Regions from separate parts of the Homo sapiens genome. Here region 1 is linked to region 2. Evidence: fine-mapped expression QTL. Tissue or cell type: whole blood. Region 2 holds a variant in brackets; the other region holds the start of a gene. All regions are shown on one strand. Distances are between the middles of the regions.

The links. PIP is the estimated chance that this variant, and not a neighbour inherited with it, causes the effect.
Region 1: PPM1M starts here. The variant in region 2 is fine-mapped to the expression of PPM1M in whole blood (TOPMed, PIP above 0.99).

The regions. Positions count from the first base shown.
Region 1 is chr3:52,241,367-52,249,469 of GRCh38, reverse strand. PPM1M (protein phosphatase, Mg2+/Mn2+ dependent 1M) reads right to left here and starts at 3,711. Exons shown (of 10, transcript NM_144641.4): 1 at 3,422-3,711; 2 at 2,658-2,775; 3 at 2,242-2,496; 4 at 1,676-1,788; 5 at 1,233-1,317; 6 at 1,017-1,135; 7 at 770-833; 8 at 407-514; 9 at 148-296. The coding sequence starts at 3,645. RefSeq lists silencers at 3,368-3,427, 3,468-3,837.
Region 2 is chr3:52,872,319-52,880,421 of GRCh38, reverse strand. All of the region lies in intron 1 of STIMATE-MUSTN1 (STIMATE-MUSTN1 readthrough), which reads left to right. The region is part of intron 1 of STIMATE (STIM activating enhancer); the gene reads left to right. Among named protein-coding and RNA genes, the nearest start is that of STIMATE, 21 kb to the left of the region's middle. RefSeq lists a silencer at 7,609-7,879. The variant T/C (reference allele first, on the strand shown) is at 3,795.

The DNA of each region.
Region 1 (8,103 bases), 630 kb after region 2:
TCCCTGCCTCCTCCAAGAAGCTTGAGACAGCCCTGATCCTGGCCAGCTGCCAGCTCATTGTCAGTGCTCTGTCTTCTCAGCCATAACTACTTGGGCTTGCTGCTGGCACCAACCCAGGCCCAGGCAGGTCCCCAGCAGCTACAGTACCTGTGTGGGTCCTCTTGGTTCCCAGGGAGGAAGCTCCGCACCAGCCATGCCACCTGCTCGTTGGACAGTACATCCCAGAGTCCATCAGTTGCCATGACAACCACATCATCCTCCTGTAGCTCCAGCTGGTCCACATCCAGCACAGTCACCTACAAATTAAGCCTGAGGATCCTGCACACTCCCTTCCCGACTCCCACCAGCCTCACTGTCTGCCTTTCTGGGCAGATGGAAGCTGGGTTGGACAGCGTTGCCCCCTTACCTGTGGCACAGAGAGCAAGAAGGGCTTGAGCTGGATGTTTGTGTCCAGGACTCTGAGCTGATGGTCTCCCAGGCCCCGGGAGACAGCCAGTGTTCCTAGTAACCGAGCCTGAGGGAAAGTGAGGTGTGAGGCGATGGCAAACAGCTCCAGCAAATGCACAAGTACCAGGCCCTAGCACTGCAGAGCACACAGGGAGAGGTGGACTGTGGCCCTTGGAAGCCTTGGACTGAGAGAGAAAATTCCTAGTCTCAGAGCAAATCCCAGGCCACCAGCCACAGCTACCAGCAAGAGGCAAAGGAGCTCCCACCTCTGCAGGGGACAATGAAGAGGGATTCTTGGGGTTGAGGAGGACCAGGCACTGACCTGCCTACCCTGTCCATGGATCAGTGGGTACTTGAGATCCGATTTCTCCACACGTTTGTAGCTCCTACCAGGAGCAGAGCCAGCATCAACCCAAGCCCTGTGCCCCATCTCATCTTTCCCCAACTCAGGGCCCAGCTGTCACACCCTCACAGTGCCACCCTGCCAAGGTGGAGGGGGGCCCCAGGCCATACGGCTGGGCCTGGATCCCAGGGGTCTCCCTTCCTACCTGTCCCCCATCCCCACTCACCAGCCACTCATGTGGTGATCCCTGAACAAAACCTTCTGTCCCAAGTCATCCCCCTTCAGCCGCCGAGGGAACTCCAGTCGGGTGAACTCACCAGCCAGAAGCTCAGGATAGACAAAGGCCTGGGGTGGGGAGGCTGCGCTCAGGTCATACTCCTTCTTATGGCCCTGGACCCAGGAGTTGGAGCTTCACAGCCTCCATGCTGCCAAGGGCACCTACCAGCTGCTGGATCCGCTGCCGCTCAGTCTCTGGGGTGAACTCGAAGCTCAGTGGCCGTATCTCATCTCTCCGCACCAAGATGGCCCTGGATTGAGGAGAGAAGGGAGAGGTCTAGGAGGAGGCCTCCACCCTCACCCATGGCCACCCTCCTACCAGTCCCTCCTCCAACCACCAGGATCCAGCTCTGTCCATGATGATCCCTTAAAGCCCTCCATGACTACCTAAGACCTGCAAGGGTGAAGGCTTAGCCCTTTAGCGGGGCCTTTGAGGTCCCTGCCCTCCCCGGCAGCCACTGTCCACACTCGACACATAACAAGTACACACACAATTCAGCCAGTCAATCCTTCCTACTATCCCTCCACTTCCAGCCACCTTTGCTTGTCCCCATTGCTGCTTATGCCCTCCCCATCCCACCCTTGCCCACCCTCCAAGGGGTGACTCACCTGCTATCCCCAGCATTGGCCATGTACAGCTTTCCCTGCAGGGACACAGCCACCAGGGCTGTGCAGCCGCCCATCTGGCCTGAGGCCTCCAGCTCCCGCCCGATCACCTCATCCTGGGGAAAACCGAGGCCACCTTAGCTGCTGCCTGTTCTGCCACCATACTACTTTGTCTCTCAATCCCCACCCTACCCTACAGTTCACTTCTACCAGCAGGCCTGACAGTCCCAGCCCAAAGTCCAGCCATACCTCCAAGATCCCTGCAGTCAGGAGATCTAGACAAGGGAAGTGCTACTCAAAATAGGAAGAGAAACCAGCCCCTGCACCAAGGACCAATAGGGTATTCAATTAGATGATGCAGGTAAAAGCAGTTAGCACACAGTAGGTGCTGGATAAATGAGAGGGGTTATGCTGATAGTGATGGCTGTTAGTAACAATCCAACCAACCCAATCTCATCCTCCCAATCCAAGGATCTGGTGTGATGACCATGGGTATACAGAGATGCCATTTCCTGAGATCCCCGGGGCAAAATCTCCACTTCTTCCCCAGCCAAAAGCCACACACTCACACATTCCTGAAAGGCACTCTCCAATGCCCCGATCACCAAGTCTTCTGCCCTGATGCCCTTTTCCTCCACAAACTGAGGGTCACTGGGGCAGATGCAGCGGCCATTGAGGTGCATGGGGGGCTGAGTGGCCACCAAGCCTTCCACCACGGCCTCCAGCTGCCGGCGCAAGCAGGAGTGCAGGGTGTTGGCAGCCAAGATGGCTGCTGCAGGACCGCCGTGCCCATCGAACAGTGCCCAGTAATGGCCTGTCAGGAACTGCACAGGAAGGGCTCAGTGTCAGCCTCTGCCTGACTTCCCCACTTGTCCCCTGACGCAACCTAACTAGGACCTGGGGCAGCAGGGTAAGAACCTCAGCCTGCAGGTCGTGGCCCCAGCCTGTCGGAGGGATTCCAGCCAAGAACTCAGACTGCACTCACCTCCTCTGGGCACAGGGTCAGCCACTCTTCTTCAGCCCCAAACTCACATCTCCGGATGCACAGCTTCCCACAGGCGGCTTGATCCTCATTGAATTCAGATTTCTCTGCATTGATAATCCTGAGGCCGGGAAATGGTAAGCGACCCTCCAGGGACACACCTATGTCCCCATGGGCACAGGGACCCAAGCCAGCACAGGGAGAAGACCCCTCCCTCTGGGGCAACAGCTCCCCAGTGCTGTCCCTAACACACACTTAGACAACCACGATGTAAGCTTCCTAACTTCACTGGCCTCATGGCTAAGGTAAAAGTCAGGGCCCAGCTCCTCTGGAGCCTACCTGGTGACCCAGGGCTAGACGGTAAGGGTAGGTTGCCATTCCTGCCCCTGTCCTGTCGCAGCCCAAAGCCCTGTCCCATACAGCGCAGGTCATACCCAGGGTGAGATGGTGGGGGTAGAGGGCGAGGGGAAATCTCCAAAGCCCCGAATGCTGGAACTCTACCGAGTCTCTGGGCCTCATCTTGGAAGCCCCTGGGCTGCAGGTCCTTCCCGACCTCCTGTCTTCTCTGAGGGGGAGGTCGGAATCCCAAGGAAAACGCTGGGTCGGGATGACCGGGAAGTTGTCAGGATTCGGAGGTGAGGGCAAGAAGGGGCTGTCCACAGGTGGGTGGGGACTGTCACTCAGCTCCTCCCGCTTTCTAGGCGGGCGCAGGACCCGAAGCGGGTTCAGGCCCGGGCCTGAGCTGGGGGTCGGGGAGGGGCACTCACTCGGCGTAGCCTGCATTCCAGGGTAGCGTGCGTCCTCGTGCGGGGCTGCGCACGGGCCGGGAGTCTGGGCGGCGCGAGGCGTCGGCCGCCCCGGGGCTGGAGCTGGAGCCGCGAAGGAAGCGGGGCCGTCGGTAGGGCACGGGGCTGGCATGCGGCCCAGGCGGCCGCGGCGCGGGGAGCGGCTCCCCAGGCAGGAAGCGGCGCCGGAACCAGCCGGCGGACATGGCGCGGCGGCAGGGGGCTGCCCGCGGAGCGCGGGGCGCTAGGGCTGGGCCGCCCGCGGGAGGAAGAAGCGGGCCGCGGGCGGAGCCGAGGGAGGGGTGCGCCGGCGGGAGGCGGGGCCGGGGGCGCGCAGACGGGAGGCGTCGCCCCCCAGCCCCGACCTCCGCCCGGGAGTGCGTGCGCGGCTGGTTCGCTGACTCCAGGGGTCAACGCTCGCGACCGCCTGAAGAAGCCCACGCCGGCATCAGCCCCATTTGACAAGCAGGAAAACCGAGGCCTAGAGAGGCGAAGTCGCCTGCCCAGCGTCCCACAGTAGCCAGGGAGGACTGTTCACCCACGCTTGCGGGGCACTGGTGGTTGAGAGGAAAAGTCCCCCACACTCCGCGGGGCCAGCGTCGCGCAGATCCTCGGACCTCCTCCTGCTGGGTGGGGACCTGACGCAAGGGGAAGATGGGGACAAAATGAGCTGGGAGGTGTCAGACCCCCACATTGAGTAAATGCCACCGAGCACAGGTTCCTTCAGGCGGCCTCCAATCCTCTCCACCCCGGCCTGCCACCCTCCACCCCAGACGGGCTTAGTGGGCACCTTGGCTTTCCCCGTCCTGAGAGGCTGCTGCCACCCTCGAGGACAGTCTTCCAAATGGCTGTCCCTGCATTCAAGATGTCTTCGCGGAATAGACAGCAGGATCCTTACTGGACTGTGAGTGAGTGACGGACAAGAGAAATCTGTGTGAGTGTAAAGGGGAATCCGTGGTCCCCCAAAGGCTCCAGCTGGTCCGAGTTCAGACCTGGGACGGAGGGAAGTGAAAGACGAGGAACCATCTTGCGGTCTCTCAACCACTGGCTAGCTGTCACCAGGCGGTCAGCCGCAGTGTCCCCTTCACATCTGCGAGTTAACAAAGCACTTTGTCACCCATTTGTCACTCAAGTCCAACTCCCTGTGCAAAAGTGTTACTTTGGCCGGAGGCAGTGGCTCACGCCTGTAATCCCAGTGCTTTGGGAGGCCGAGGCGGGCGGATCACTTGAGGTCAGGAGTTCGAGACCAGCCTGGCCAACATGGTGAAACCCCGTCTGTACTAAAAATTAGCCAAGCGTGGTGGTGTGCGCCTGTAATCCCAGTTACTCAGAAGGCTGGGGCACAAGAATCGGTTGAACCCAGGAGGCAGAAGTTGCAGTGAGCCGAGATGGAGCCACTGCACTCCAGCCAGGGCAACAGAGCGAGACTCAGTCTCAAAAAAAAGAGTGTTACATCATATGGACGATTCTGAGGCCCATGGAGGGGAAGTCTTGGACACCCAGGGCTGTACTATTTCCATTATGACAATGCAGCTGACTCAATCCTCGCCCCCAGGGCACTTCTCTTCCCCTTTCCTCCTCCAGGAAGCCAGGGCTTGCCAATTAAAAGCGGCTAAGGCTCCACAGCCCAGTGCCTGCATATGAGCTGTATGAGGAGTCCACCTTCACCTCCACTCCCTAGCCCAGGTAGACGCTCAGTAAGCCCTACTTCCTCCCAGCAGCTAGTCCTGCCCCAGTGGGAGTTCCTCGGGCCCAAGAAGGAAGGTTCTTAGGGCAGGGACCTGTGCCCAACACCCACTCCCTCCGATGACTCAGTCCCAGACCAGCCTGGGGGCTGATTGACTGAACCCACAGTGTCTGCTGGGGCCACACTGGGCACAGGAACGCAGTGCTAATGGAGACAAGCCAGGCCTCTGCCCACCAAGCCCCCTGCAGTGATGGTAGCAGTTCTGGTGGATGCTGCTTCATCCAGCTGGCAAGAGGATAGGGGCGATGTCAGAGAAAGTTTCCCAAAGGACCTCTGAGCTGTGAATTGTCACTGTGACAGAACAGAAAGGTACCAGGGTGGGGCAGGCCCAATTCAGTCTATGGGGCCACTTCCTCACCCTCACCAGTTGATGCCTCAGAGGATTTTAAAGTCTAAAATTGGACAAAACAAAGTGCATACACTCTATTCCCCAACCCACCCCTGGGTGGGGGAAAGCCTTGTCCTGAAGTATTTTCACAGAAGCTCTGGGCAACCAAATGTCATAGGCAGTCTGTTGCACAGCTTAGCCATTGTCTATTTTCAGAGCCATGTGGAACCACATGGCAATCCCATCCTCTCTGTTCCAAGGTGGCCTGAGTGTTCCTTCAGTGCTACCAGGCTCTTCTGGCTTCCTGGGCTCCTAAGCGCCTCACTCTTGCCTGGATCTTAAGCCTATGTCTCTTGGTTTACTCCCTCATTTTGCTGAAGTGCATCCTTCAACAACTTTCCAACAAAGGGTGACTGGGAGGTACTTTCCTGAGAGATGTTATTTATCTATCTTTTTCTGTGAATGGTCTGTTTGTATCCTTTGCCACACTTTCTACTGGGCCATTTGTCTTTTTCTTTTTCTTTTTTTTTTTTTTGATACAGAGTTTCGCTCTTGTTGCCCAGGCTGGAGTGCAATGGTGTGATCTCGGCTCCCCATGACCTCTGCCTCCTGGGCTTAAGTGATTCTCCTGCCTCAGCCTCCTGAGTAGCTGAGATTACAGGCATGTGCCACCACGCCTGGCTACCATTGGTCTTTTTCTTATTGACTTATGAGAGCTCTTTATATATTAGAGAAATCAGCTCTTTATTTTGAAATGAGTTACAAGTATGCTGTTTGTAACAAGTTACAGTTTGTTATTTGTGTTTTGGCTGTGATGGTGGCTTTTTCCATATAGACTTTATTTTTTATGCAAATGGATTATTGATCTTTTCATAAAGGAAAATAAAAATTTCAGGACCCCCAAATTTGTTATGCTAAAGGGAGAGTTAAGCTTGGAGACTGAGCCACACAACACTGGCATTCCTTTTTTTTTTTTTTTTTTTTTTTTTTTTTTTGAGATGGAGTCTTGCTCTGTCACCCAGGCTAGAGTGCACTGGCACAATCCCGGCTCACTGCAACCTCCGCCTCCCGAGTTCAAGCAATTCTCCTGCCTCAGCCTCCCCAGTAGCTGGGATTACAGGCACCCGCCACCATGCCCAGCTAATTTTTGTATTTTTAGTAGAGATGGGGTTTCGCCATATTGATCAGGCTGGTCTCGAACTCCAGACCTCAGGTGATCCACCCGCCTCGGCCTCCCAAAGTGCTGGGATTACAGGCGTGCTGGGATTACAGGCGTGCTAGGATTACAGGCGTGCTGGGATTACAGGCGTGCTAGGATTACAGGCATGAGCCACCACACCCAGCCTTTTTTTTTTTTTTTTAATTTTATTCCGGCAACACTTCATTCTATGCTGCAGAACTAATGTTCTCCAAAACTGTCATTCTTTTCCCAAATGGATACCTGTTACCTTGCAACCTTGTGTCAAAATATTATGCATTAACCAGATCCCCACAAAAAGGCAAAAAGCCTCATGAATCTCCAGGTGACTGCAATCACAAATTGCTCAGCAGTAAATTCTTTGCCAGTCCCTAAAACTTTCAGGATGTATATCCTCCTATAAAACAAGGACATGTCAACTGCAACTTTAGGTCTGCAACCTAAACCTAACTCCTAAAACCAAAGTCTGTTAAATTTCACACTGACAATGTCAATTACAAGTTTATCTGCCCAGGTGCAGAACAAGGATAAGATGAGATCAATCATTCCTCCACCTAACCTGAGACCTCTGCATAATTGGCTCTTCTGTTACTCCCTGTTCTTCCAGTGTTCACCCTATCTTCCATATAGCTTAGATTTACGGGACACTAATTAAGAGTCTCACAAAAACATAACCATTTGCCTCACTGTCTTCTCCCCTTTAAAGAAATGTACAAATATTGAGCCTCCTGAAAACTTCTTGGGAGAGCACAGGCCACAGACGTTTCTTTGACTTGTGTTGCTTTCCTGGGCACGCTCCAACTCTGGCTCAGTAAACCTCGATTGATTGAAGCTCTTGCCTCAGTCTCTTATTTGGGTTAAGATTTTCTTTTTTTTTTTCTATAGACTAATTTTGGAAGTGAAAGATTTTCTTTGATGGTTTCTGTGTTTGGTGACACAGAAGTTTCCTCCACTCCAGATTCTACAAACTCCTCCCTTTGTTTCTTCAGTATTTTTAAATTTTTTAAGAGAGCCTCACTCTGTCACCCAAACTGGAATGCAGTGGTGTGATCACGGCTCACTGCAGCCCTTAACTCCTGGGCTCAGGTGATCCTCCTGCCTTAGCCTCCCAAGTAGCTGGGACTACAAACATGTGTGACTGTGCCTGGCTAATACATATCTATCTATTAATCTATCTATCTATCTATAGATATATATATGTAGAGATGGGGTCTTGCCATCTTTACCAGGCTGGTCTTGAATTCCTGGCCTCAAGCAGTCCTCCTGTCTCAGCCAAGTAGCTGGAACTACAGGTGTACATCACCATGCCTGGCTAATTTTAAAATAATTTTTTTTTTTTTTTTGTAGAGATGGAGTCTCACCATGTTGTTGTCCAGGCTGGTCTCAAACTC
Region 2 (8,103 bases):
TATAATGAATATGTAATAATTGTACATATTTGTTGTTTGGTCCACTCTTGACAGTGTTTTAACTCTGCTTTCTCTGGTTCTGTGCTTGCCCCACCCACATCTGGTCCCTCTTGTATAGCATCAGGTGTGCGAAGCTAAGTCTCCTGCAGGTGGCTTGGTGAAGAGCACGTCAGAAGGATGCGTGCTGATTGGGACTCTCTTGATGCACACCGTTGCCTGGTTGGAGAGTCTGAGGACAGGTTGGAGGGCCCCACCCGGGCCCTAAGCCTCCTTTTATCTAGGATCTCATGAACTATGCTTGGCCTTTCTGAGTGGGAGCTGGCATAGCAAACCTGTTTCAAATGAGAAATAGCAGGGCCAGAGCATGCTGATTCTCTGGGGTTGATTTATGTTCTTTCTAGAATTTTAGGAAGGCAGGAATCAAAGAAGACATCATTGTGATACAACCCCAGAAACATCACCCAGCAAGCCCGTCTCCAGAATTCCAGAGGCTCTGGTGGCTTCCCCTCACTTCATGTAGCTAGGGTTCAGAGCCCTCAGGGAAGGAGGCTGGCTAGGAGGCAGAGCTCCTTTTCCACGTGTTCTTTAAGCAAGCTCTCTGCCAGCCTCATGCCTTGGGGTGCTTACCATGCACTCTGCATGATAGGACAAGAGGGGCAGAAAAACTTAATTTCATGGTGCCTTTTATGACTTCCATGCCATGTGATGGTGGTTTTTCCAGCTCCTTTGTGGAAGGAAAATTTGAGAGATCTAAGTAGAGAGATGAACAAAGTGAGCATTGGGAGTTGAGGAATCCTATTCTGACTGAGACTCTCCCTTTCCTCACGCAGCCGGTGTTCCCAGTTCTCAGAGTCTTGGTTTATTTACATTGTATATCCCCCTGTACTGGTGTACATGCTTCTCGTGTATCACTTGTTCTTCCCTCCTGGTCCTCCTGTTCTTCCTAAGTGGAGGAGAGGCGTCAGTAGCTGTGAGAAGAACCTCAAGGCTCCTGAAGTATCCATCAGACTACTCTGGAAGGGATTCCCACTGCCGGCCAAGTAGGGCTACAGGTATTTTAGCTCATAGCGGGTGATGATTTGTTAAGGTCCCAAGCCTCCTGGTGGTCAAAGGCTGCCTTGGCTGCTGTCTGCTGCCCTGTCTCTGGCCACCTGACTCGTAGGCCTGGGGACTGAGGACATGAGCTCTGTTGTTTCTCTTCTCAGATCTGCCTAGTTACACAACTTGTATGGTTTGAAAGGAGAAGACTCTGGGTGCCAACTTCATTGGGCTGAGGAGCTAGGGCAAAGGTCTTATGTGTAATTTAATAATTCTAGTATCATGAGAAGAACTGGTCTTCCTTTAATTGTTCTGCCTAGCATGCTTATTAATTCTCTTCCATCAATAAAATTCTAAGGTAAAGCCCAGTGTTCCCAGAAGAAGAGTTTTTTTGCTTGAGTAAAGGTGTAACACCCTCACAAAGTCAGTGGATGCTATCGCAACATCCGTGCACTTGCACTGCCGTTGGAGCCTCTCAGTAGACTGCTCATCTGCCATGCTATTGGCAGTCCCACCCACTCCTGAAGGCAGTGTCCTATCGGCTCTTATCTGTTGAGAAGGTTAGATATGGCCTTCTGGAACCCTGGGGAGCTGGTCCTCTGAACTTGGACTTGTCCTTGACTTCTTTATGTAGCTTCATAACCAGCCAGCTTCTCTTGGTTGTAGGTGTGTGCCCTTGGAAAACCAGTGGAGATGTTTCTGTTCGATGCTATCAGAATAAAAATGCATTTAGGTAGGCTCACGAGACAATCAGGGAGAAAAGTCTTTGTCATCCAAAGGGACCAGGGAACAGAGATAGTGTAGCCAGGAATGTAGGGTTTCTACACAAGGAAACAAAACTAATACATCCAGGACCATAGGGTTCCTAGACCAGGGAGCAGAGGTGGTACAGCCGGGACCACAGGGTTCCTAGACCAGGGAATGAGGTGATACAGCCAGGACCATAGGATTCCTAAACCAGGCAAAGAGGTGATACAGCCTGGACCATAGGGTTCCTAGGCCCGGGAGCAGAGGTGGTACAGCCAGGACCATCAGACTTCTAGACCAGGGCATGAGGTGGTATAGCCTGGACCATAGGGTTCCTAGACCAGGGAACAGAGATGGTACAGCCTGTTGGTCACATGCGTGGTGTCTAGCATCAGACTGCGTAAATTTGGTCCCTTGCCTCTCATGACCACCAGGCCACATTATGGTAGTTTTTCCAGTGCTGTCTGACTTTATCTGTCTGAGACTGTTTCTTCTTCTCAAGATAGGGGAGGTGATTACCTGTCTTTTTTTTTTTTTTTTTTTAAGACGGAGTCTTGCTCTGTCGCCCAGGCTGGAGTGCAGTGGCGCGATCTCAGCTCACTGCAAGCTCCACCTCCCGGGTTCATGCTATTCTCCTGCCTCTGCCTCCCGAGTAGCTGGGACTACAGGCATGTGCCACCACACTGGCTAATTTTTTGTATTTTTAGTAGAGACAGGGTTTCACTGTGTTACCCAGGATGGTCTCGATCTCCTGACCTCGTGATCTGCCCGCCTTAGCCTCTCAAAGTGCTGGGATTACAGGCGTGAGCCACCACACCCGGCCAGTGATTACCTATCTTAATGGGTTATGAGAATTAAGTGAGATACAGTGCTTGGCACTGCCGGGTGCAGGGTGGGTGCTGAGTGTTAGCTCACTGAGGCCCACCATGGCTGACTGGCCGCCACGTCACACAACCCTGGGGAGGTAGGACAGTTCACACCATGTCATCAGTTATTAGAATTGGGAAAATACAGCTTAATCCAAGACTTCATGTACAGGTCGAACTGGAGGGATTGAATGGCTCACCGGAGACTTTCCAGCAGGTCAGAGGCTGAGCCAGGACTAGAACCCAGAATTCCTCTGTCCTAGGCCTCTGCCCTTTCCCCTCCAATGCCTACTCTTACTGCTGTTTCTGTGCCCCCTGCCATGGCACACATTTACTTATGCTCATTGGTTTGTCCAGGGAGTTTGTTCTAGACTATGGCATGAGAAAGGGAACTCTTCCCACCTACGAACTGACCTTCCTAACATTGTGCCACTTGGTCATGACAGCCCAAGAGCACAAGCCTGGAGCCGCAGCCAGTGGCAGGTGGCTGAGGCATGTGAAGGTGGAGGGATGTTGCACACTCTTGGTAAACATGGGCTTTCTTCCTTCCCTCTCCCAGCTTCAGGCTGGTCTGGCAGAGGCAGGCACTGGGTTGCCCAAAAGCGTGAGCTGTGTTAAAGAGTGATGGCAGAAGCAGCCACAGGCAGGGTGTGTCAGAGGAGACCTGTTATGGACTCAGCCAGTGTGGCCTGTGCCAGTGAACTTCAATGGCCATTCTCAGTTTTAACCTGCATTAAGACTTGAGTTGACTTTTTATCACAAGCCTTGAAATTTTGGACTATGTATATATTATAAATGTAGACACTAGCCACCTACCTTCAGTGTAGAATAACATTCTTGAATTGTTTTTCCACCCACAGTTGATCCTTGAACAGCGTGGGGGTTAGAGCAGTCAACACTCCACACAGTTGAAAACCCGCATATAACTTCTGACTCCCCAAAAACTTAACTGCTAATAGCCTAGTGTTGACTAGAAGCCTGACCCAATAACATAAACAGCCAATTAACACATATTTTATATATGTATTATATATGGTATTCTTACAATAAAATGAGAAAAAATGTTATTAAGAAATGTTAGTAAGAAAAATCATAAGGAAGAGAAAATGTATCTGCTATTCATTAAATGGAAGTGGATTATCA[T/C]GAAAACTTGTGTTCGTAATGGTTTTCATCCTCTTGATCTTCAAATTGAAAGCCGAGGAGGAGGAGGATTCAGGGTTGGTCTTGCCGTGTCGGGTGGCAGAGATGGGAGAAAATCCGTGTATAAGTGGACCCATGCAGTTCAAACTCATGTTCTTCAAGGGCCAACTGTAGATTTAAGTGTTCTAAGCTAATTCTCTTTTAGAAGCCATTCTTGTTTTTCGATAATGCTGTCTGGGTTGCACATAAAGGCCCAAGTTTGATAAGCTTTGCGTTTTGTATCAAGGGACCAGGCTCCATCAGTCCTGATGCTGGTGCCTTGCTGTTCAGTGGTAGGTGAGGGTCAGCAGTGGCCTGGGTTCTGGTCCTGACCCTAGTGCTTGCTGCCTGTTGGACTTCAGCAAGTTCCTTAACTGCTCTGAGCATCAGTTTTGCCATCTGAAAATTAGGATGATTCTATCCACTTCCTAGGGTTGAGTGAGGAATGATGGAATTAATTTAGCTTAAGTGTCTAGGGCCACCAGTATTGCTGATGTTGATAACACCTTATGTGATGAGACTTTCTCAGATCTCCTCATGGGAACTCAGTTGAATGCATACTGGCTTTAGGGAGTAGAGGAGGCTGTCTTTGATGGTAAAGCAGGGTGCTGTTGGGGATCATGTCAGGTGAGCCTGTCCTTGCCAGCCACCCTCACACTGCTTCTCCAGGTGAGCTGGCTGCTCATGGGTACCTCTCAGTGCTCACAAGGGCTTCTGGATGAGGGAGGGGGCCGGCTGAGTGGCCCCTCCACCCCTGCTGGGGAATGGCATTTAAAGTATTTGACCTACAGATGTCAAGAGGGCAGGTGTAATCATCTTTATGAATGAAACCTACTGCACTGGGGGTTTATCCTAGTAAGTTGAGTGACCCAGTTAAGTGAATTGGCAACTTTGATGTCCTTTGGCTTCTGGACTTAACTCTTGACAGGTGGACCTCAAGACTCCCACCCTTTCCTTCCAGATTCAAAGAGTGAAAACAACATCAAAAGTACCCCTCTCCATACCCGTTATTCATTCTGTTCTCTGCCAAGTTGGGACCACTCTAAGCAGCTAGAATGGTGTGGGAGCCTTGGGTTACGGGGACAGAAATCTAACCTGCGATTTGCTGTGTGATGGGGCCACTGTGTGAGGGGGCCAGCAGGTGTCTCCTCTGACTAGGAGGCAGAGAGATTAATGTCTGTGCTGCTTGAGCTGAGGATGAGCTTCTGTGGTGGGGCTGGCCAGGGGCTACACGTGTTACCTCTGAGAAATGCAGACTCCACGGCCATGCCTTCTTCTAAGAATTTGACTAACCACAAGGTTGCAGTGAAGGTCAGTTCTTTGGGTAAAGAAAACTTTTTATAGTCAAGGTCCTCTTATCCAACACAAATTAGAACTATTTGTTAATTTTTAAGAGGTAGTGAAACTGGGGAATACAAAAAAGTAGAAACATACACAATGAACATTTTATTCCAGCTTATGCCTGTTAGCATACAGGAGCACAGGGACCTCCCATCTACCATAGATAACAGCGCAGCAGTGATCCTAGACCTCCTTGATGTGGGTTCAGTTGCAGACTAAAGTGGCGCATTTTCCGTCTCTCGTGAGTTCTGCCTGCTGGAAGCTTTTCTCTTAGAAGGAGATTTTCTAAATGAGTTGGGTTTGAGGAAGGTTTTTAATTATCTAATGTGCAAAATTGTAATTTAGTCATTTTTAATTTATTGTTTTTAGCAGCAGAGACCTTTATTTTATTTATCTATTATTATTTTTTGAGACAGAATCTCCCTCTGTCGCCCAGGCTGGAGTGCAGTGGCAAGATTTTGGCTCACTGCAACCTCCACCTCCCAGGTTCAAGCGATTCTGGTGTCTCAGCCTCACGAGTAGCCACCACGCCCAGCTAATTTTTTTATTTTCAGTAGAGACTGGGTTTCCCCATGTTGGCCAGGCTGGTCTCAAACTCCTGACCTCAAGTGATCCGCCCGGCTCAGCCTCCCAAAGTGCTGAGATTACAGGTGTGAGCTACCATGACCAGCCTCTTTTTTGTTGTTACTACAAAAGTAATACATTCTCACTGTAAGCAACTAAAACATTATGAAAAGACATAGCATAGAAAGTGAAAGTTCAGTTCACTGTAAGTCCATCCTCTAGAGAGCTAACCATGGTTAATAGTTTATTGTATATGCCTCTGAATTTCTGTGTGTGTGTGTATCTTTTGTTGATGTATAAAAATAGGTTCACATTACACATTGACCGTTTTAATGATTTGCTTTTTTCCCCCCATTTAGCATGAGGGTTTTTTCCATTTCAATGCAGATAGATCTACCTCACTTTTTAAATAGTTTTATTGAGGTATAATTTATGTACCATAAAACTCACGCATTGTAAGTATACTTCACAGTTGACATCCATTGCATAATCACATATGATCAACCCCTTCCCTATCGATGGACATTTAGCTGGTTTCTAAATCTTCCACTCTTAAAGACAATGCTGCAGTGAGTGCTCTTCTACACAGACTTGTGGGCATTTGTGGAGGTGTAACTATAGAGGAAAAGCTGAGTCACAGTTTATAAACATTTAAAATCGTGATAGATATGCCAAAATAACCTGACGCAACTTTTCATGTGTTTTGTGGACTGGTGGAAAACACACACACACATATCGTTGCCCGCTATGAGATTGAATGAAATTCCTGAATTTATTTGTCCAGGGAATTGGAGTTAGCAGTGTAGTGGTGATGCATGGCAGGAGCAGATGCAGCATTTCTCTGTGAGTTCCCCAGCTGCCCAGGATACTGGCTCACAGGGTAGGGTCCTTCCAGGACAGCCCCATTATTCTTGGGGCTTCCATCAGTATTCAGGAAGAACGTACACTAACAAGCCCTCATTAGCAAGTACTTACAGGTCCCCAGCGCCTCTTGGCTCTTAGGTCAAATTCTGCATCCTGGAAGCCTCATCCCTGCACCTCCCACCCCACCCCTAGGGCTCTTGGAGCAGCAACTCTGATATCTCTGCCTCTAGTGTCTGGTTCCCAGAAGGCTCAGTTAGTTCACTGAGGCTACCCTTGGTACCAGTTTAATGACTTCTTTAACCTGGGTGGTTCTGGAGCCGAGAATTGCAAATCCACTTCCCCACACTTACCAAGTGGTTGTACAACTCGCTTTTCTACCAGTGTTTTAAGAGTACCTGTTTCCTAATATCCTCACCAAATGTTTTAACCTTTGCTAATCTGGGCAAAAATCAATACTAATTTGCATCTTCAAAATTGCTGTTATTAAGGTTGCATATGTGTTTATCAGCAATTTGTATTTCTTTCCATCAAACAGAATCCCCCATGGAACACACATACAGTGATAATGCCCCCTCGCTCCTACTGCCATCATTATCTTAGCAGATGACACCACAGCCCTGCTCCTGGGGGAAGCAGTGGTTTCAAGGAGGCCTGTGTTCAGAGAATTTAGCATATTTATTTGCTAGACAATTTAGGGTGGTGGGGGGAGGTTGTTGCTTTTTGTTTTTGTTATTTATTTCTCAGCCTTCGGCCAAACCTCCATGGAGCAGGATTAAAGCTGGCTAAACTTAGAACCTGGGCTTCATCTGGTTCAGAAGAAATTAAGTCTTTACCAAAAAATGTTCATGAGCACTTAGACCAGATTATCAGCTTCTTGTTTTTAAGGTCAGATATGGTTGCCGGGCGTGGTGGCTCACACCTGTAGTCCCAACACTTTGGGAGGCCAAGGTGGGTGGATCACTGGAGGTCAGGAGTTTGAGACCAGCCTGGCCAACATGGTGAAACCCCATCTCTACTAAAAATACAAAAATTAGCTGGGTGTGGTGGTGCATGCCTGTAATCCCAGCTACTCAGGAGGCTGAGGTAGGAGAATCACTTGAACCCGGGAGGCGGAGGTTGCAATGAGCCGAGATTGTGCCATTGCACTCCAGCCTGGGCGACAGAGCGAGACTCCGTCTCAAAAAATAAAATTAAAAAAATAGATAATTAAAAATCAGGTCAGATATGGTGAGGGAGTCTTTGCCGAGCCAGTTCATCCTGACTTCCAGTTATTTACGAGGAAGAAAGTTTTGGAGTAGTTGGCCTCTGACAGTCTTGCGTACAGCTTACATCATCCATAACCAAAGCAGTTTAGTCCTTCCTGTTGTAGGACTAATAACTTGCAAACTGCTTCTGGGAGAACCCATCACAGAAATTCATGAAACTTGTTGAATTGACAGTAAACACCTGGACAGGACTCAGTAAATATGGCTTAAAAGTGACAGACTGAATGAATTCCTTTGTT